Linked DNA regions of Homo sapiens: region 2 is linked to region 1. The links come from fine-mapping of genetic effects on gene expression. A gene starts in region 1. The other region holds a variant in brackets. All regions are shown on one strand. Distances are between the middles of the regions.

Evidence for each region.
Region 2: its variant is fine-mapped to the expression of DTX2 in monocytes after LPS (Quach 2016, PIP 0.95).

The regions. Positions count from the first base shown.
Region 1 is chr7:76,456,125-76,466,627 of GRCh38, reverse strand. It overlaps DTX2 (deltex E3 ubiquitin ligase 2), which reads right to left and starts at 4,919. Exons shown (of 11, transcript NM_001102594.3): 1 at 4,792-4,919; 2 at 2,919-3,083. RefSeq lists an enhancer at 9,547-10,420.
Region 2 is chr7:76,427,410-76,437,912 of GRCh38, reverse strand. It overlaps ZP3 (zona pellucida glycoprotein 3), which reads right to left. Exons shown (of 8, transcript NM_001110354.2): 2 at 8,280-8,398; 3 at 4,883-4,986; 4 at 4,266-4,443; 5 at 3,758-3,875. Among named protein-coding and RNA genes, the nearest start is that of ZP3, 7.7 kb to the right of the region's middle. The variant G/C (reference allele first, on the strand shown) is at 4,586.

The sequences.
Region 1 (10,503 bases):
AAGAGTGAAACTCTGCCTCAAAGAAAAAAAAAAAAGAGACAGAGAAACAAAGAAATACACATGTAAGATAAAACTAAGAAAAAAATGAAAGAAAGGAGATAATGATTACCTCAGGGTAAGAACAGAAAACAAGTTCAAATGAAATGATTAGATGTTCTAAGGGGACCTGATAAAGTAGAAAACTTTTTAAAGTTTTTTAAAATTAAAAAAAAAAGATTAGATATATACTTTTGTTTCATGATCCCAGCTTTTGTTTTGGGTGCCTAGATTGCCAGAGCTTACTACATTTATTAAAAATAACTTACTAAATAAGGAAAAGTAGGTCAGGCATGAACACTGAGGAGTGTGTACTAATCAATCTTGTTCTCAGCTTAGCTGATAAGGCAAACACCAAAGAGACTGCTGAATTCATCTTTGTACTCCAAGTGCCAAACACAAGCCTCGGCGCACAGAATTTCGGGAGGCATTTGGGGAATGAATCAGGGCTCTTCTCTCTAGCCCATGGCCTCATTTCCTGTTGGCCTCTTAATACCTTCAACACGTCTGAGGCCAAACGCATCTTCCTTCCTCATTCTCCTTTTCCCCCTGGATTTCCCCCAGGCGGCCAAGAGAAAAACCTCAGATTCTCAGTCCTCCGCAGCCCGCTCCCCCAGGCCTAGCAGCTGCCTGCCCTGCTCTCTCCTCACCTCTGAAGCCCCCTGCTAACACCTGGCCGGGACCCTTATGCCTCTCACTTTACCCCCTCCCTGCCGGGCGCAGTGGCTCACGCCTGTAATCCCAGCACTTTGGGAGGCCTCGGTGGGTGCATCACCTGAGGTCAGGAGTTCGACACCAGCCTGGCCAACAGAGGGAAACCCCGTCTCTACTAAAAATACAAAAATTAGCCAGGCATGGTGGCAGGTGCTTGTAGTCCTAGCTACTTGGGAAGCTGAGGCAGGAGAATCACTTGAACCCGGGAGGTGGAGGTTGCAGTGAGCCAGGATGGCGCCACTGCACTCCAGCCTGGGTAACAGAGCGAGACTCCATCTCAAAAAAACAAAACAAAACAAAAAAACAAATAAGTGCTCCCTCCCAAACAGCTTCTCCAACTCTGCTTTCTAACCCTCTTGTACATCTCAGATGGGGGGGCAGAAAAGATTAAGCTTCCTGAACTAACGTTCTGATCTTGTCTTTTACACACCTCCCCTGGATCTCTAGAATGAAATTCAAATTCCTTAGGCTGACAGTCAAAGCCGATCACAATACCGCCCTTCCCTCGCTATCAACAATATTTGCCGGTGCCCTTCCCTTCCATCCCCTCATCTATACCTCCCTCTCCACAATTCCCTTCCAGAGTGTAAATGAGGATCCACTACTCCCATGTGCATCAGCGTGTCTGTCCCCACCCCCATGACTCTGCTTCACCCTGAATCCCACCCACTTGGTCCCCTGTCCTCACCTTACCCACCCTTTTATGGCCCAATTTAAACAGCACTTCCCACGATGCCTGGATGTGCCCAGCAGAAAGCAAACACCCTCTAAATCAGCCAGGCATGATGGTGTGCACCTGTAAGTCCAGCTACTCGGGAAGCTGAGGCACAAGAACCTCTTGAGCCTGGGAGGTGAAGTTGAGCAGTGAGCTGAGATTGCACCACCGCTCTCCAGCCTGGGTGACAGAGTAAGACCCTGTCTCAAAAAGTAAACAAACAAAACAAAACAACAACAACAAAAAGAATGAAAGAAAACACCCTCTTAGCAAGTTCCTTTTCAGTTCTCTATGTTCACTTTATCTCTTCAACTAGACTATAAGCAACTGAGGGCAAAACCACTCACCTGCCTCTCCCCACGAAGAAGCTGGCATGATGTATGTAAGAAGACCGCCACAAAGCGAATAATCCAGTCTAAACCCATTCCACATGTTCCAGTGTGCTCCATTAAAATGTCCCTCACGAGGCCAGGCACGGTGGCTCAGGCCTGTAATCCTAGCACTTTGGGAGGCTGAGATGGGAGGATCCCTTGAGGCCAGGAGTTAGAGACCAGCCTGGACAACGTAGAGCGGCACTGTCTCTAGATAAAATTATTAGTCGGGTATGGTGGTAGGCACCTCAGCTACCCCAGAGCCCAGGAATTTGAGGCTGTGGTGAACTATGATCACTCCACTGCACTCCAGCCTGGGCAGCAGAAGCAGACCCCAACTCAAAAAAATAATTAATAAAATGACCCTCATAGAAATCTCCTAAAATCCTTCCACTCCCGAGTCTTGGCATGGCCCACATAACCCTCCTCGCTCAGAGCCCTCTGCCTGCTTTTCCAGCCTCCTCTATTACATACTAAGCTACTTACAGTAGCCCAGCTGTGTCCCGGTAGCTTCATGACTTTGCAAACGCTGACTCCTCTCCCAGGTGACTGTGCCCCACTTTCTAAGTCCTACTCCTCCTTCACAACCCCCCTCAACTACCACCTTCCAGGAGCCTTCCTGACCTTCCCTCTAACCGTCCCCTTTCTGGATGTGGGTAGGAGAGCCTTGTGATTTCTCCCAGCTCAGTATATATCACACTGACAACACCTTGTCACTGACTCTGCTTTGTCTTTTCCACCAAACAATGCACTCCCAAAAGACAGAGATCTTATCTGGCACCCAGTAAGGGTTTATGCAACAAAAGAAATGAAAACTGCCACTTCAAATGCAGAAATCGTGACTTGTGTCTTCTATCCCATAAAGCATGTCTTAAAGTGGAAAGCATCTTCTAAGACTAGTTAGTTAAACAGGAGAAGCAGTGGCAAGACGCCACTGCAATTTATTTGAGACAGGTGGCAATCAACAGTCAACTCCCAGGGCACACGTTTATCCTGCAGACCTCAAATTCCACCCTCCCCAATCCCCACCTTCTCTGCACCAGATAGAGAAGGCAGCAAGGTCAAGTCCCCATGGCTCTCACCTTTTCTCTCTGGAGAGCTGGCACAAACTGTCCCTTCTGGATGAAGACACCAGCTCCTTAGGAGGAATGACTTGTTTGAGTTCCCATCTTGATACAAACCACAAACAACAAAAACCGGGCAAATCTGAAAGGCTTGCTGACTCAGCGACACAAATTCCAAGGCACCTTTGCCAACGAGGAAGAAGATGATCAGGTTTTAAATTAAGAAACAGCAGTTAGTAAAAACAAAGGTACAGATGTTGGATCCGTGTGCTGTGCCTGGGGACTGAAAATCACCAGATTTATTTTCCAATAGCCTGGGTGGAGCAGGAGGTACAACAGTCTTCCTCCACCCACTTAACAATCAAGGAGATGGTTGAAGAAACAACAAAAAGCAAACAAACAAAAAAACCCTGAGCTCTTTTTAAAATTTTTTATTATTATTAGTTTTTGGAGACGGAGTCTTGCTCTGTCACCCAAGCTGGAGTGCAGTGGCGTGATCTCGGCTCACTGCAGCCTCCGCCTCCCAGGTTCAAGCTACTCTCCTGCCTCAGCTTCCCGAGTAGCTGGGATTATAGGCTCGAGTCACCACGCCTGGCTCTGAGCCCTTTTCTTAAAAAAAAAAAAAAGTTCGTTTTTTTAGTTTGTTTGTTTTTTGTTTTTTGAGACGGGGTCTCCCTCTGTCGCCCATGCTGCAGTGCAGTGGTGTGATCACAGCTCACTGCAGCCTCCAACTCCTGGGCTCAAGCGATCCTCCTGCCTCAGCCTCCCAAGTAGCTGGGACTACAGGCACCCACCAACACGCCCATCTGATTTTTTATAGAGACAGTGATCTCAGGAATCCTCTTCGTTTCCCAGGCTTGTCTCAAATTCCTGGACTCAAATGATCCTTCCACCTCGGCCTCCCAAAGGGCTGGGATTACAGGCATGAGCCACCGTGCCTGGCCTGAGCCCTTTTACAGAAAACTCTAAAAGGACTTCATAAGCCAGTCTGGCAGCTAAGCATCCAGGAAATCAACACACCAGAGAGGGTAAATATTTAAGGTCACAGAGCAACCGAATCAGAGGGCTTGCTATCCGGATGGCTTAAGCCCGGATGGTGGCTACCAGAAAGTCTACCTTCTAGAGCGCTAGAGGAGCTAGGAAGGCATGCAGAAATATTCTGAGTTTCTCAAGGGTCCAGGCGTCTGTACACATGCTATTTATTTCCATCGCTGTTGGCGCTTAGAGAAGTGGAGCCAGCTTGGAGGAGGAGGGCAGCTGGCTGAGACAGTCGCGATGAAAGCGCAGCTCCAGAAAAGGGAACCGAGTTCTAAATCTTTTTCGGCACCCCTTACGCACCCCAAAAAGTGACCCAGGGCCCCAGGAACTCCTGGGAAGACCCCCCACAGGAAAGCAGGGAAGCAGAGTTAGGAAGCAAACTCCTCCAAAGTACAACCCCCGGCCCAGTGAGTCCCTTCACCTGGGGGTAGACCCCAGCAGGACCAACCCCTCGTCAGGGAGCCGGTGGCAATCTCGTCACCCCCTCCTCTGGGTACTTTGGGAAGGGGTGCGCGCCTTCCGAGCGACCCGGAACCGCGCCCCTCCGCCTGCGAGCCCCTCAGCCTTCATCCGAACGTCCCCTTTCGCACCCGGCACCCTGTCCCGTCCAAAGCTGCCGGCGCCTCCCAAGTCCCCCAACTCTCGCCCTCAGGACCTTGATCCCGGAGACCGATCCCCCCGACACCCCCGATCTCCCGGGACCCCCGGGTGTCCCCGCCGCCCCGGCCGTCGGTCCCCCTCACACCCACGCCCGCCCCCTTCCGGTCCCAGCTAGGCTCCGGCTCCCCGCGCCACCCCGCGCCCCTGGGACCGCAGCCCTAGCGACGCGCAGGTGGCCTTCCCGCCCTCTCACCGAGGCTGAGGAGGACAAGAGGACGGGGCTGAGGGCACCACCGCGCTCGGGCTGCAGCTCCGGCTCGGCCTGGGCAGGGCTCTGGCTGTGGCTCCGACTCTCAGGAGAAGGCAGCCAGAGTGAAACTCGGCGTCGCAGCTTCCGAGCGAGCCGCTGCGCATGCCCGGGGCGTGCGGCCTTCTGGGAAATGTAGTCCCGGTAGGGCCCAGGGGCGGGCAGAAGGCGGGGCTCAGCGGGGAAGGGCTCAACCCAAGGCGCACCTGCTCCGGTCTATGTTTTCTTCCTTCGCCTGCTCACTCATTGACTTATTCCTTCATTAATTACTGACTTAATTTTAACTAGTTTTTACTAGTACATACATGGTGCCAGTACATACATGTGCTACTGTTTCTCTTTTTTTGTTTTTAAAATTAATTTTATTTTTCTTTTTTGTACAGATGGGGGTTTTGCAATGCTGCAACGTTGCTCAGGCCGATCTCAAACTCCTGGCCTCAAGCGATCCTCTTGCTTCATTCAGCCTCCCAAAGCACTGGGGTTGCAAGTGTGAGCCATCGAGCACAACCTTTTTAAATTTAAATTTTTGTCTTTTTCTTTTCTTTTTTTCTCTCTTTCTTTCCTATTTATTTTTAATATTTATTTATTTATTTAGCTACTGTGTAGTGGGAGTGCGGGAGTGAATAGGTGAATCAGAAATGGTTTCTTGGCTGGGCGCAGTGGCTCATGCCTGTAATCCCTGCACTTTGAGAGGCAGAGGTGGGCGGATCACCTGAGGTCGGGAGTTCCAGACCAGCCTGGCCATCATGGCGAAACCCCGTCTCTACTAAAAATACCAAAAAAAACTAGCCGGGCGTGGTGGCTCGTGCCTGTAATCCCAGCTACTCGGGAGGCTGAGGCAAGAGAATCGCTTGAACCCGGGAGGCAGAGGCTGTAGTGAGCCAAGATCGCGCCATTGCACTCCAGCCTGGGCGACGGAACAGGAATCCCTCTCAAAAGAAAAAAAAAAAAAGACGAAGAAGAAGAAAAAAGAAAAAGAAAAGGTTTCTCGCCGGGAGCGGTGGCTCACGCCTGTAATCCCAGCACTTTGGGAGGCCGAGGCAGCCAGATCACAAGGTCAAGAGATTGAGACCATCCTGGCCAACATGGTGAAACCCCGTCTCTACTAAAAATACAAAAATTAACTGGGTGTGGAGGCCGGGCGCAGTGGCTCACGCCTGTAATCCCAGCACTCTGGGAGGCCGAGGCGGGCGGATCACGAGGGCAGGAGATCGAGACCACGGTGAAACCCCGTCTCTACTAAAAATACAAAAAAAAAAAAAAATTAAGCGGGCGTAGTGGTGGGCTCCTGTAGTCCCAGCTACTCGGGAGGCTGAGGCAGGAGAATGGCGTGAACCCGGGAGGCGGAGCTTGCAGTGAGCCGAGATTGTGCCACTGCACTCCAGCCTGGGTGACAGAGCGAGACTCCGTCTCAAAAAAAAAAAAAAATAATAATAATAATAATAATTAACTGGGTGTGGTGGCGCGTGCCTGTAATCCCAGCTACTTGGAAGACTGAGGCAAGAGAATCACTTGAACCCTGGAGGTGGAGGTTGCACTGAGCCAAGATTGTGCCACTGCACTCCAGCCTGGACGACACAGTGGGAATCTGTCTCAAAAAAAAAAAAAAAAAAAAGAAAGAAAAGAAAAGAAAAGAAAGAAAGAAGAAAAGAAAAGGATTTCTTTCCTGGGAAAGCTTTGTATCTAGTTGGAAAGTCCGGCACTTAAACACACAATTACGATATAGTGGGGAAAATGTTTGGATAAAGGAGGGCATAGAAGGGTATGCCTAACTTGAGGGTGGGGAGAAGACATCACAAGACAGATAAAGGCTATGTGGGTTTTTCAGTCCATAGAGAAATTTGCCAGTTGGAGCATAGGGAAGCTCTTGTAAAGCAAGAGAGATGTGAAAGTGCCTCATGCACTCCGGAGGCAGCACAAAGTTCCTGGTGGCCAGGGCAGAGGACACATGGAGGGAAGGGAGTGAGGAAGGAGAAAATGCACTAGGCTATAGCAGGATCTGAGGAGTGTGGGGAGAAGCCGGGGTAAGATTATGATGAATTTTAGATAATGTGAGTGTTTGCACATGTGTGCACATACTATGTATGTTGAATATTATGTATACAGTTTCAGGGGGATCAAGGTCCTCTGAATCTTGGAGGACCAAGTACCCAGTTAAAGATACTTACCTGGAATGACATTATCCTAAGGTCATTGATCCTTTATCAGGGATTTTTATTTTCCTTTTTTTTTTTTTTGAGACGAGTTTTGCTCTTGTTGTCCAGGCTGGAGTGAAATGGCACAATCTCGGCTCACTGCAACCTCCGCCTCCCAGGTTCAAGTGATTCTCCTGCCTCACCTCCCGAGTAGCTGGGATTACAGGCATGCACCACCACACTCAGCTAATTTTTGTATATATATATATTTTTGAGACGGAGTCTTGCTCTGTCGCCCAGGCTGGAGTGCAATGGCACAATCTCAGCTCACTGCAAACTCCGCCTCCCAGGTTCAAGCAATTCTTCCTCAGCCTGCCGAGTAACTGTGATTACAGGCGGATGCCACCATGCCCAGCTAATTTTTGTATTTTAGTAGAGACAGGGTTTCACCATGTTGGCCAGGCTGGTCTTGAACTCCTGACCTCGTGATCTGCCCACCTCGGTCTCCCAAAGTACTGGGATTACAGATGTGAGCCACCGCATCCGGGCTAATTTTTGTATTTTTAGTAGAGACAGAGTTTCACCATGTCAGCCAGGCTGATCTCAAACTCCTGACCTCAGGTAATCTGCCCACTGCAGCCTTCCAAAGTGCTGGGATTACAGGTGAGGGCCACCGCATCCGGCCAGAGTTCCATTTTTAAAATCTGAAAAGACGGACTATTTTTATTTGGGAAAAATAAAGAGTTCTGGTTGTGAAAAGAAGTAAAATAGGACAGTATCAAGAGGGAGAGTGGGGGGCATGGACTTTTGTATTTTAGACAGGAGAGAGAAGAGTGTGCTGACTTCTGAAATTGCAGCAGGATGTCTGCCCCCTGGGAACCTGGAAATGAGGGAAACAGGCTTGGCCACTTGCAAAGTGAACTTTAAACTAATATACGTAGCAAAGGGCCAGAGACAAAAGAACTGCCTGGTAGGAGGGGGCTGGTTAAATAACCCCGGAACACTAGGTAGCCCTAGAAGGAATGAGGAAGACTCACAGTGGCCTAGATCTATTGTTAAACCAAAAAGGAACTTTGAGCCAGGCAAGGCGGCTCATGCCTATAATCCCAGCACTTTGGGAGGCGGAGGCAGGTGGATCACCTGAGATCAGGAGTTCAAGACCAGTCTGGCCAACATGGTGAAACCTCGTCTCTACTAAAAATACAAAAATTAGCTGGGTGCAGCGGTGCACACCTGTAATCCACCTACTCGGGAGGCTGAGGCAGGAGAATCGCTTGAATCTGGGAGGCAGAGGGTGTAGTGAGCCAAAATTGCACCATTGCACTAGCCTGGGTGACAGACTGAGACTCGGTCTGAAAAAAAGAAAAAAAAGGAACGTTCAAAATAGAGGGTAGAGAATATGAGAATATGCACCCATTTGTGTTTTTTAAACAATTGCATACAATAAACGGGCTTACAGACGAAGAAAGTTTCTGGGAAGAGACCCAAGAAGCCCCAGAAGGTAGGCGGATAAGCTGAAGAATTGTTAAAGATTTTATTTATTTATTTTTTGAGACAGTGTCTCCCAGGCTGGAGTACAGTGGCGTGATCATAGCTCACTGCAGCCTCGACCTCCTGGGTTCAAGTGATCTTCCTGCCTCAGCCTCCTGAGTAGCTGGGACTACAAGCGTGCACCACCATGCCAGGCTGATTTTTGTATTTTCTGTCAAGATAGGGTCTCACCATATTGCCCAAGTTGGTCTCAAACTCCTGGGCTCACACATTCCTCTTGCCTCAGCCTCCTAAAGTGCTGAGATTACAGCCATGAGCCACCACGCCTGACTGAATTTTTAAAGATTTAGAGAGGGCTGTCAGCTGGGCACAGTGGCTCATGCCTCTAATCCCAGCACTTTGGGAGGCCAAGGTGGGAGGATCACATAAGGTCAGGAGTTTGGCCAACATGGGGAAACCCCGTCTCCACTAAAAATACAAAAATTAGCCAGGCGTGGTGGCATGCGCCTGTAATCCCAGCTACTGGGGAGGCTGAGGGAGGAGAATCTCTTGAACCCAGGGGGCAGAGGTTGCAGTGAGCCGAGATCGTGCCATTGCACTCCAGCCTGGGCAACAGAGTGAGACTCTGTCTTTAAAATAAAATAAAATAAAATAAAATAGGGCTCTCTCTTCTCTGGCAGTACCCCCACTCCCCACAACATACACAGTAGGGCAGTTTGCCACTTGCGTTCTTGCATAAAGGTCCACAGCCTAAGGGGCAGTGGCAGGAGCAGCGGCAGGAAATATTCCTGGCAGGGGTTCTTTGTCTGAAATTTTCCGCCTAGAGATGGTGTCTTTTTTTTTTTTTTTTTTTTTGAACTCCTCAAAGGCTGGGGTTTGTTCAACACACCCAAGGGGCCACCAGTGCTCTGAAGCAACTGAAAATGAATGACGTGGCCCAAGAAAGAATGTGACTGTTGGCCACAAAATGGGGAGTGGTGTTGAGCAAAGAAATTTAAACTCTAATACCCATAATCCCAGCACCTGGCTAGGTCCAAGTGGGAGGATCGCTTGAGCTCAGAAGTTTAAGACCAGCTTGGGTGACAAGACAAGACCCCATCTCTACAAAAAATAAAAAAATTAGCTGGGTGTGGTGGGACACCCCTGTGGTCCCAGCTACTTGGGAGACTGAGGCAGGAGGATCACTTGAGCCCAGGGGGTCCAGGCTGCAGTGAGCTATGACGACACCACTGCATTCCAGCCTGGGTGACAGGGTGACATCTTGTCTCTTAAAAAAAAAAAGGGCCGGGTGCGGTGTCTCATGCCTGTAATCCTAGCACTTTGGGAGGCCGAGGCGGGCGGATCACAAGGTCAGGAGATCAAGACCATCCTGGCTAACATGGAGAAACCCCGTCTCTACTAAAAATACAAAAATAAAATAAAATAAAATTAGCCGGGCATGGTGGCGGGCGCCTGTAGTCCCAGCTACTTGGGAGGCTGAGGCAGGAGAATGGCGCGAACCCGGGAGGCAGAGCTTGTAGTGAGCCGAGATTGCACCACTGCACTCCAGCCTGGTGAGACTCTGTCTCAAATAAAAAAAAAAAAAAAAAAGGACAACACGTGGGGGTGGGGTATGGGGTAGAGGGTATTTGCAAACTTTTCAGATGAATGAACGGCGAGCACACGTACCTTATTTTAGATTTGCCACAAGGGAACCAGTGAAAAGGGTGAGCCTTTTCTTTTGTTTTTGAGATGGGGTTTCGCTCTTCTTGCCCAAGCTAGAGTGCAATGGTATGATCCCGGCTCACTGCAACTTCCACCTCCCATATTCAAGTGATTCTCCTGCCTCAGCCTCCCAAGTAGCTGAGACTACAGGCGTGTCCCACCATGCCTGGCTAATTTTTGTATTTTTAGTAGAGATGGGTTTCGCCATGTTGGCCAGGCTGGTCTTGAACTTCTGACCTCAGGTGATCCGCCTGCCTCAGCCTCCCAAAGTGCAGGGATTACAGGCGTGAGTCACCTGCCCAGATGGGTGAGCCCTTTCAAAACATGT
Region 2 (10,503 bases), 29 kb after region 1:
CAAAGGAAATGTACTTTCATCCTTAGCTTTTTCCTAGTATGTTTTTCTGGTGCTAACTGGAGTCTAAGATCCCAGGGCAGTTCCCCTATAGCGGCCTTTTAGAAGCAGGGTCTAGGCTGGGCGTGGTGGCTCATGCCTGTAATCCCAGCACTTTGGGAGGCTGAGGTCAGTGGATCACCTGAGGTCAGGAGTTTGAGACCAGCCTGGCCAACATGGTGAAACCCCATCTCTACTAAAAAAAAAAAAAAAAATACAGAAATTAGCTGGGCATGGTGGCAGGTGCCTATAATCCCAGCTACTTGGGAGGCTGGAATGGAAGAATTGCTTGAACCTGGGAGATGGGAAGTTGCAGTGAGCTGAGATTACGCCATTGCACTCTAGCCTGGGCAACAAGAGTGACACTCCATTTCCCCCCAAAAAAAAACAAAAAAAAAAAAAAAAAGAGGGGAGTGTGATAGCTCATGCCTGTAATCCCAGCACTTGCTGAGGCAGGTGGATCACCTGAGGTCAGGAGTTTAAGACCAGCCTGACCAACATAGTGAAACCCCATCTCTACTAAATATTCAAAAATTAGCCAGGCGTGGTGATTGAGTGCCTATAATTCCAACTATTAGGGAGGCTGAGGCAGGAGAATGGCTTGAATAAGGAGGTGGAGGTTGCAGTGAACCGAGATCATGCCATTGCATTCCAGCCTGGGTGACAGAGCGAGACTCTGTCCAAAAAAAAAAAAAAAAAAAAAAAGTACACAGGGTCTTGCTCTGTTGAGGGCAATAGCACCATCATAGCTCACTGCAGCCTTAAACACCTGAACTCTGATCCTCCCACCTCGGCCTCCCAAGGTGCTGGGATTACAGATGTGAACCACCGTGCCCAGCCACCCTATTGCTCTGAAATAGGGTTGTTCCTTCTTTGTGCCATGGGACATAGTCTACTGAGGCATCATCAATCCTACCTTTGAAGGGGGGCCCTCCAAGGGCTCAGACTATCTTCCATTAAACAGCACTGTTCTCTGGTCTTAGTTACCCCTCAACCCCCAGAGATTGAGAAACCACCTCAGTCCATACCCATGCTGACCGCTACCACCTCTGTGAAAACTTCTCTCCATCTTCTTCCCAAATGGCCACACCTGAGGTCAATCTTGACTTCCTCCCACAACCAGGATCCTCTCCCCTAAGGAGCTATCGGTCACTGATCCGAGGGCCAGGACTCTTTTCCCAAATCTGCCCTCCTTTATCCCCAGCCCCACTGAAGCAGGGCCCACCACTGAGAGCTTCAGGCCATCTCATCAATATTAGATGCTTTTCCCTTTTGCTACCCTACTGATCTGTGTGTTGATCTTTCTCTTCCCACAAGGCAGCTGCTGGAGGAGGTGAAGTGGCATCGATGTCATCTTTGAAAAGTTTCTACTTTGTCCCTTAATGCCACCCTGACGTATGAGCCTCTGCTTCAGAGGTTTGCAAGCCTGGCTGCGTATTAGAGTCACCTAGGAGCTTAAGTGGCTTTTGATGCATTTCCAAGTAGAATAAGGTAGGTCAGTAGATGGAGGATAACAGTAAAATGCTAGCAGGCCGGGTACAGTGGCTCACGCCTGTAATCCCAGCACTTTGGGAGGCCAAGGCAGGTGGATCGTTTGAGGTCGGGTATTCAAGACCAGCCTGGCCAATATGGTGAAACCATCTCTACTAAAAATATAACAGGCACTCAGTAGTGGCGTATGCCTACAATCTCAGCTACTTGGGAGGCTAAGGCAGGAGAATCGCTTGAGCCTGGGAGGTGGAAGTTGCAGTGACCTAAGATTGGGCCACTGTACTCCAGCCTGGGTGACAGAGACCCTCTCAAAAAAAAAAAAAAAAAAAAAAAAAAAAAAAAAAAAAAAAAAAAAGGGGGCGGGGGGCGCGTGGTGGTTCATGCCTATAATCCCAGCACTTTGGGAAGCTGAGGCGGTTGGATAATGAGGTCAAGAGTTCAAGACCAGCCTGGCCAAAATGATGAATCCCTGTCTCTACTAAGAAATACAAGGATTAGCCGGGCATGGTGGCAGGCGCCTACAATCCCAGCTACTCAGGAGGCTGAGGCAGAATTGCTTGCACCCGGAGGCAGAGGTTGCAGTGAGCCAAGACCGCACCATTGCATTCCAGCTTGGGTGACAGAGTGAGACTGTCTCAAAAAAAAAAAAAAAATGCTGGTGGTAGAACCTAGATGGTGTGCACACTGAAGTTCATGGAGTTTTACAGCAAACACCTATGAAGATTTAGTTAATGTTACAAAATGTGACACCATGCCCTACCCCAATAGAGTGAAGGTATGAGACTCTCTACAATCAGTATTTTTACAACCTCTCCAGATGATTAGTATAGAGCCAGCACTGGAAACCCCTACTTTAATCACTTCCTAACCACCTATTCTAAGCTCACCGCCTCACCTCTCATCTCAGTGAGCTTGTTTAAAAGCTACTTGAGGCTGGGCATGGTGGCTCACGCCTGTAATTCCAGCACTTTGGGAGACCGAGGCAGGCGGATCACCTGAGGTCAGGAGTTTGGGACCAGCCTGGACAACATGGTAAAACCTTGTCTCTACTAGAAATACAAAAAAATTAGCCAGGCATGGTGGCGGGTACCTGTACTCCCAGCTACTTGGGAGACTGAGGCAGGAGAATCACTTGCACCTGGGAACCTGGAGTGGCTGGGACTACAGGTGCCCACCATCATGCCCAGCTAATTTTTTGTATTTTTAGTAGAGGGGGTTTCACCGTGTTAACCAGGATGGTCTCAATCTCCTGACCTCGTGATCTGCCCGCCTCAGCCTCCCAAAGTGCTGGGATTATGGGCACGAGCCACCGCACCAGGCAATTTACTTCTAACCACTTACCAGTACTTCCCGGCTAGATGTTGGTCCTTGCACCTGCACTTCCTACTGCATCCCTCCCCCACCTCAGCCATTAGGCAGTTCCCATCTTCATTCCTTCCTTCTCCTTCCCTCTTAGTGTCAATTTGAGTTTTCTAGTTTAGGTTCTCAAGGGGAGGACCCAGACTGGCAGAACCAACACTTAAGAATGCAGATTCTAGGCTTCACTAGACCACCTGAATCAAACCCTGGGTTGGGGCCCAGTCATCAATTTCAACAAGCCCTCCAGCTGAGGATGATGCCTTCAGAATCACTAGCCTAACCTATGACCAAGTTCAAGAAGCCACCCTGGCTACGAAGTTCACACTGGTTTTCTTTGCCCCTGCAGAAAGCCTCCAGGAAGGCTAACACCTGCCTTTTTTTTTTTTTTTGGAGATGGAGTCTCACTGTCACTCAGGCTGGAGGTGCAGTGGCACAATCTCTGCTCACTGCAACCTCTGCCTCCCAGGTTCAAGCTATTCTCCTGCTTCAGCCTCCCAGGTAGCTGGGATTACAGGTACCCAACCACCACACTCAGCTAATTTTTTTTGTATATTTAGTAGAGTCGGGGTTTTACTATGTTGGCCAGGCTGGTCTTGAACTCCTGACCTCAAGTGATCCACCCCCCTCGGCCTCCCAAAGTATTGGGATTACAAGCATGAGCCACCGTGCCCGGCCTCTACCTCTTAAGGCTTCATATTGTTCATCCTTCTGCTTGAAGGCCTCGCTAAAGCTCATGGCTTTACTTGTAAGTTTGAGTTACTGGGACACAGCTCTAAGTCATTTGCTTAGGGGTGGAGCTAGTGAGTGACCCCATTCAGTAGGATATGAAGGTTGCAAGTTCAGCCTTCTTTCAGGCTGTTAAAGCTCTTACCATGTTTCTGGAGTCATTAGCAAAGTGGAAGACATCCACTGTGAACTGGAGTGTATCTGGCCCGGGTCGAGGAACTTTGAATGCAGAAGAGGCATCAGTGAGACCGTCGACAAGACAGCTTGGAAGAAAACAGAACGGTATTAAAGCCAGACAGGTGGGCCGGGCACCGTGGCTCACGCCCATAATCCCAGCACTTTGGGAGGCCAAGGTGGGTGGATCACTTGAGGTCAGGAGTTCGAGACTAGCCTGGCAAACATGGTGAAACCTTGTCTCTACTAAAAATACAAAAATTAGCCAGGCATGGTGATGGGCACCTGTAATCTCAGCTACTTGGGGGGCTGAGGCAGGAGAATCACTTAAACCTGGGAGGCAGAGGTTGCAGAGGGCAGAGATCAAGCCTCTGTATTCCAGCCTGGGTTACAGAGTGACACTGTCTCAAAAAGCCAAACAGGTGGCTTTAGGGTCATTTTGCTAGGAAGGTTCTCTAGGCAGGGAGCCCAGTGCTCACCCATGGAAGTCCACGATGGTGTGATAAGGGGAGGCATTCTGGTCTGGTGTCGGTGTGGCCACGCAGTGGTCCACAAACAACCGCAGTGGCACGTGGCTGCCAGTGTGGATTTCTGCCTGGAGGTGGGCTGCATCTCCCAGGTGGAAGGTGGGGGACCTCTTCTCAGCGTTCCAGTTCTCTGAAAGACACAGTCAGCTGGGCATGGTGGCTCATGCCTGTAATCCCAGCACCTTGGGAGGCTGAGGCAGGTGGATCACCTGAGGTCAGGAGTTCGAGACCAGCCTAGCCAACGTGGCAAAACCCCATCTCTACTAAAAATA[G/C]AAAAGTTAGCTGGGTGTGGTGTCAGAAGCCTGTAGTCCCAGTTACTCGGGAGGCTGAGGCAGGAGAATCGTTTGAACCCCAGGAGGTGGAGACTGCAGTGAGCTGAGATCGTGCCACTGCACTCCAGCCTGGAGGTCAGATCAAGACTGTCTCAAAAACCAACCAAAACCAACCAAAACCAACCAAAACCAACCAAAACCAAAACCAAACAAACAAAAAAAAGACACAGCCAAGGGCAGGGGTCTGAGATGGCCCAGGTCTTTCCACAGATGTCCCACCCAGCCTTCTTCTCTTACCCTCCATCAGACGCAGAGAGAAAGTCAGCTTCTCCTCTGAGAACACCGTGGTCCTGAAGGGCAACCAGGTGGGCAGGATGGCCTGGCTGCTCACATTGCCCTGCCTGAGAGAAGAACAGCAGCTGTGCACACCTGCCTCAGGTCACACCCACCTGGGCCCCCACTGATGGGGAGTATCTCACTGCTACCCCACTACAGGGTCCTCAGCTATGGCCCAGCCAGGTAGCTGGTGCGAGATGGCTGAACAGACACCTTGAGCCTGAGGCTGCCCCTGCACCCTCCTGAACTTCTGCACCTGTGAGTGGCCTAGCCATCCTAACTGATGCTATGATGCTATCTGGGCCGCTGAAGACAGATACAGCTGAACCTAGGAGTTTGGTTTCTAGACTGAGATCTGCTCCCTCTTGAGCCCTGGACCTGAGTGCGGTGGCTCATGCCTGTAATCCCAGCACTTTGGGAGGTGGAGACTGGAGGATTGCCTGAGGCTAGGAGTTTGAGAGCAGCCTGGACAACATAGCAAGACTCTATCTCTATAAAAAAGAAAAGAGGCCAGGCACGGTGGCTCAAGCCTATAATCCCAGCAGTTTGAGAGGCCGAGGCGGGCGGATCATGAGGTCAGGAGATCGAGACCATCCTGGCTAACATGGTGAAACCCCATCTCCACTAAAAATAAAATTATCCGGGCATGGTGGCGGGCGCCTTTAGTCCCAGCTACTTGGGAGGCTGAGGCAGGAGAATGGCGTGAACCTCGGAGGTGGAGTTTGCAGTGAGCTGAGATCACACCACTGCACTCCAGCCTGGGCAACAGAGCAAGACTCCATCTCAAAAAAAAAAGAAAAGAAAAGAAAAGATAGCTGGGCATAGTAGTACATACCAGCTACTCAGGAGGCTGAGATGGGAGGATTGCTTGAGCCCAGGAGGTCAAGGCTGCAGTGAACTATGATGGCACCCCACTGCACTCCAGCCTGGGCGGCAGAGTAAGACTTTTTTTTTTTAAACAAAAAACCAAAAGCCACCACACATACTTTAGCCCTAGAGGTTCAGGTTTGGGGTCTGATAGCAGGCCCTGCACAGTACTCCACAGGATGCTTGAGAGGGGAATCAGCTAAGGCCATCTTTTTTTTTTTTTTTTGAGACGGAGTCTCACTTTGTCTCCCAGGCTGGAGTACAGTGGCACGATCTCGGCTCACTGCAAGCTCCACCACCCAGGTTCACGCCATTCTCCTGCCTCAGCCTCCCAAATAGCTGGGACTACAGGCACCCGCCACTAGGCCTGGCTAATTTTTTGTATTTTTAGTAGAGACGGGGTTTCACCACGTTAGCCAGGATGGTCTCCATCTCCTGACCTCATGATCCGCCCGCCTCGGCCTCCCAAAGTGCTGGGATTATAGGCGTGAGCCACCATGCCCAGCCAAGGCCATCCTTTAGAGATCAAAGACAGGCCCTTAGGTCTTGAGATGCTACCGAGAGCCTGGACCCACACCAGTGACTGGGAAGTCCATGGAAGCAGGTCTGGGTATCTGCAGATACCTACCCTGCTAACCCCATAGGATCTGCTGGAAGAAGCTACTCCAAGTGATGGATGCATCTATTGATAACCAGACTCAGGTATCTGGAGCCAGGTTAAAGCATCCCAGCCTACAACCAGCCTCTCTAATACTACCTACAGCCAATGGACCAGGTGAGCCACCATCCTCAGGGGTCAGGCCCAGAGACTGAAGTCAGACTTCCACGGTCACAGGACAGCTTCAGTCCCTCATGCCGACTGGGCAGCCTGCCCTTGACTCCTCTATCCTCCTCCATCTCCCCTACCCACATAGGCACCAAGCTCCTCCAACTGCTCTTAGCTCCTGCGAGTCAGCCTCTACGGTCCCTGCAACCATGGGTCAGGCCTCATTGAATCCCAGTTTTCCAGCCTCCCAGCTGGTTCTCACTAGTTCCCATTTGTCTTCAGCACCAGCCACCAGGTGACCCTGGGTGGAGATTCAGTCCTCACCCATTCCAGGAGGGGCACCTGTGGTGAGGCTGGTGAGCCCATCTGTCTGGCTCCCTCATTACCCCAGTCCCTGGGCTCCAGCCCCCAGGCTGCATGTCACCTACTAAGGGCACACTACCCTCCCGTTGGGTGTGTGGCCACATGGCTCTGCCCAGGCCATCTCAGCCTCAAGGTCCCCCACTCCAGGATCCTGTTCTAGGATAACCCCTACCATGACCCCTCCCAGGGGCATGGCTCATCCCTCATGATGTCCTGACTGGTATCAGCTCCCTACCCACTTCACACTAGCATTTTCTTTTTGAGATGGAGTCTTGCTCTGTTGCCCAGGCTGGAGTGCAATGGTGCCATCTCAGCTCACTGCAACCTCTGCATCCTGGGTTCAAATGATTCTCCTGCCTCAGCCTCCTGAGTAGCTGAGATTACAGGCACGCGCTACCACACTCGGCTAATTTTTTTGTGTTTTTAGTAGAGATGGGTTTCACCATGTTGGCCAGGCTGGTCCTGAACTCCTTACCTCGTGAGCTGCCCACCTTGGCCTCCCAAAGGGCTGGTATTACAGGCGTGAGCCACCATACCTGGCCGCATCATCTTATACCCACTCCCAGACTGGTTCAAGGGCAGGGACAAAGTCCCCTGCACCCCATGCTGAGGCCAGCACAGGACCCAGTGTTGTCCTTGGGAGCCATAGTTTCTCCTCCCACTTCAGGGCCTGAGTTCACAGGCACGTGCTTGATGCCAGGGGCTTGAGGACCACAGAAGAGTAGGCCACCACCGCCCAGGTCAGATTCTAGAACGCAGCCTAGCACTATTTTATTATTATTTTTTGCGATGGAGTATCGCTTTGTTGCCCAGAATGGAGTACAGCAGTGCAATCTCGGCTCACTGCAGCCTCTGCCTCCTGGGTTCAAGCAATTCTCCTGCCTCAGCCTCCCAAGTAGCTGGGATTATAGACACCCGGCTAATTTCTGTGTTTTTAGTAGAGATGGGGTTTCACCATGTAGGCCAGACTGGTCTTGAACTCCTTGACCTCAAGCGATCCACCTGTCAGCCTCCCAAAGTGCTAGGATTACAGGATGAGCCACTGCACCTGGCCCCAGCCTAGCACTATTGGAAGGCCATTTCTGAACCCTAAGGGCCGAGGCTGGCATAGTACCACCACCAGGGCTGAGCAGCTCTGAAGCTTCCGCTAAGCTGCAGTTGGGCTCCTGATACTCTTCTGGGGCTCGAACTAGACTCAGCAGGCCCCACAATCCCACGCAGTACAGTAACCACAGCTGCAAATGCTTCGGTAGGTAGTTCTAATAGCCATGCTGCAAGCTGTAGCCCATAGCCAGCCCACTTGCCTGCAGCCACACCCAAGGGGCTTTTGCACCAGGGGCCATGAGTCAGTCCCACACCGACCTGGGGTAGCGGCACTCGATGGGAATCTCTGCGCGGTTAGTCCTCACGATGGACAGGTTTCCCACGGGGCGGGGGTCATGGAGCAGGAAGGTGCTGTACACCAGGGCATCGTCAGTTACCTGGAGGAAAGGTGAGAAGTTAATGCTGCCGGCCATCACCTGCCCGGGTACTCCCAAGCCATACCTGAGTGCTCAGGGAGGGCAGCCCACAAGGGGACAGAAAGACCACAGGGTCAAGGCCAGGTGCAGTGACTCATGCCTGTAACCCCAGCACTTTGGGAGGCCAAGGATTGCTTGAGGCCAGGAGTTTGAGACTGGCCTGGGAAACATAGCAAGACCCCATCTCTACAAAAGAGAACACAGGCTCTGCCACTGGTCAGGAAAGAGGCAGGACAGGTACTGTCTTTGTACCTCGGAATCTTTACCTGACACCACATATTGACACCACCACAGGCAGACTGGATCAACCACATGGCAGATACCATGTAACACCCAAGCAATAGAGGCATCAGGGCACATGACACATCCCTTCTGACACTCCCCCTCCATGCCCCCCAGTACATACAGTTTCCTCTTTCAGGAGAGGCCCAGGGCCAAGATAGCCGCCAGGAAGCAGTCAGGAAGTGCCCAGCTGTTAACACTTATCAGCTTCTGGCTGGGCGCTGTGGCTCACGCCCGTAATCCCAGCACTTTGGGAGGCTGAGGAGGGCAGATCATCTGAGGTCAGGAGTTTGAGACCAGCCTGACCAACATGGTGAAACCCCATCTCTACTTAAAAAAAAAAAATTAGCTGAGTGTGGTGGCACGTGCCTGTAATCCCAGCTACTCGGGAGACTGAGGCAGAAGAATCGCTTGAACCCGGGAGGCAGAGGTTGCAGTGAGCGGAGATCGTGCCATTGCATTCTAGCCTGGGCAACAAGAGCAAAACTCTCAAAAACAAAAACAAACAAAAAACACAACAACCCACATCAGCTTCTAACCTATTCAAGCCCATTTCACATAAGGTGGGGGAGACTGATTCAGAGGTTGCCTGAGGCAGGAAGAGCACAGGTGAGTACTACTGGGGAAATTTGCATCGTCCAATAGGGCTGCAGAAGGCAGGGCCTGCCTGGGAGAGAGTTTTATAGCAAACACCTAAGTTCGAAGATTTTGCTAGAATATTAGAAAAATGTGACGCTAGGCCCTACCCCAGTAGAGTGAAGGTATGAGATTCTCTTGAGAATCAGTATTTTTACAACCTTTCCAGGTGATTAGCATAGAGCCAGCACTGGAAACCCCTACTTTAGTCACTTCCTAACCACCTTTTGTTTTTTTGAGATGCAGTCTTGCTCTGTCACCCAGGCTGGAGTGCAGTGGCACGAACTCGGCTCACTGCAACCTCCGCCTCCCAGGTTCAAGCAATTCTCTGCTTCAGCCTCTGAGTAGCTGGAATTACAGGCACGTGCCACCGTGCCTTTTTTTTTTTTTTTTAAATAGAGACAGGGTTTCGCCATGTTAGCCAGGCTGGTCTCGAACTCCTGGCCTCAGGTGATCCACCTGCCTCAGCCTCCCAAAGTGCTGGATTACAGGTGTGAGCCACCATGACTCAACCCCCAACCACCTATTCTAAGCTCACTATCCCCACCTCTCATCTCAGGGAGCTTATTTAAAAACTACTTGAGGGCTGGGTGCAGTGGCTCATGCCTGTAATCCCAGCACTTTGGGAGGGAAGAGGATTGCTTGAGGCCAGGAAGTCACGACCAGCCTGGGCAATAGAGCTAGACCCCATCTCTACAAAAACATAACTTGGCTGGGCACGGTGGCATGTGCCTGTAGTCCATCCCAGCTATTCAGGAGGCTGAGGCAGGAGGATGGCTTGAGCCTAGGAGGTCGAAGTTGCCCAAGAGCTCAGGTGGCTGCCTGGCCCTGACCAAACTCGATCTTCAGGGAATAGTCCTAGACCTTATTAGCAAGTGCCCCAGCACAGACAGAACCAGCATAGCTCGTGGGGCCCCTTATTCAAAAGTTATTACCATTTCAGGGCAAGAGGGCATTCCATTAAGCACTGGGCCCCACAGAACTGCACAGGTTGTATACCTGGGAAACTGGCCATGGCTGTATTTTTTTTTTTTTTTTTTTTGAGACGGAGTCTCACTCTGTTGCCCAGGCTGGAGTGCAGTGGCACGATCTCAACTCACTGCAACCTACGCCTCCCGGGTTCAAGCAATTCTCTGCCTCAGACTCCT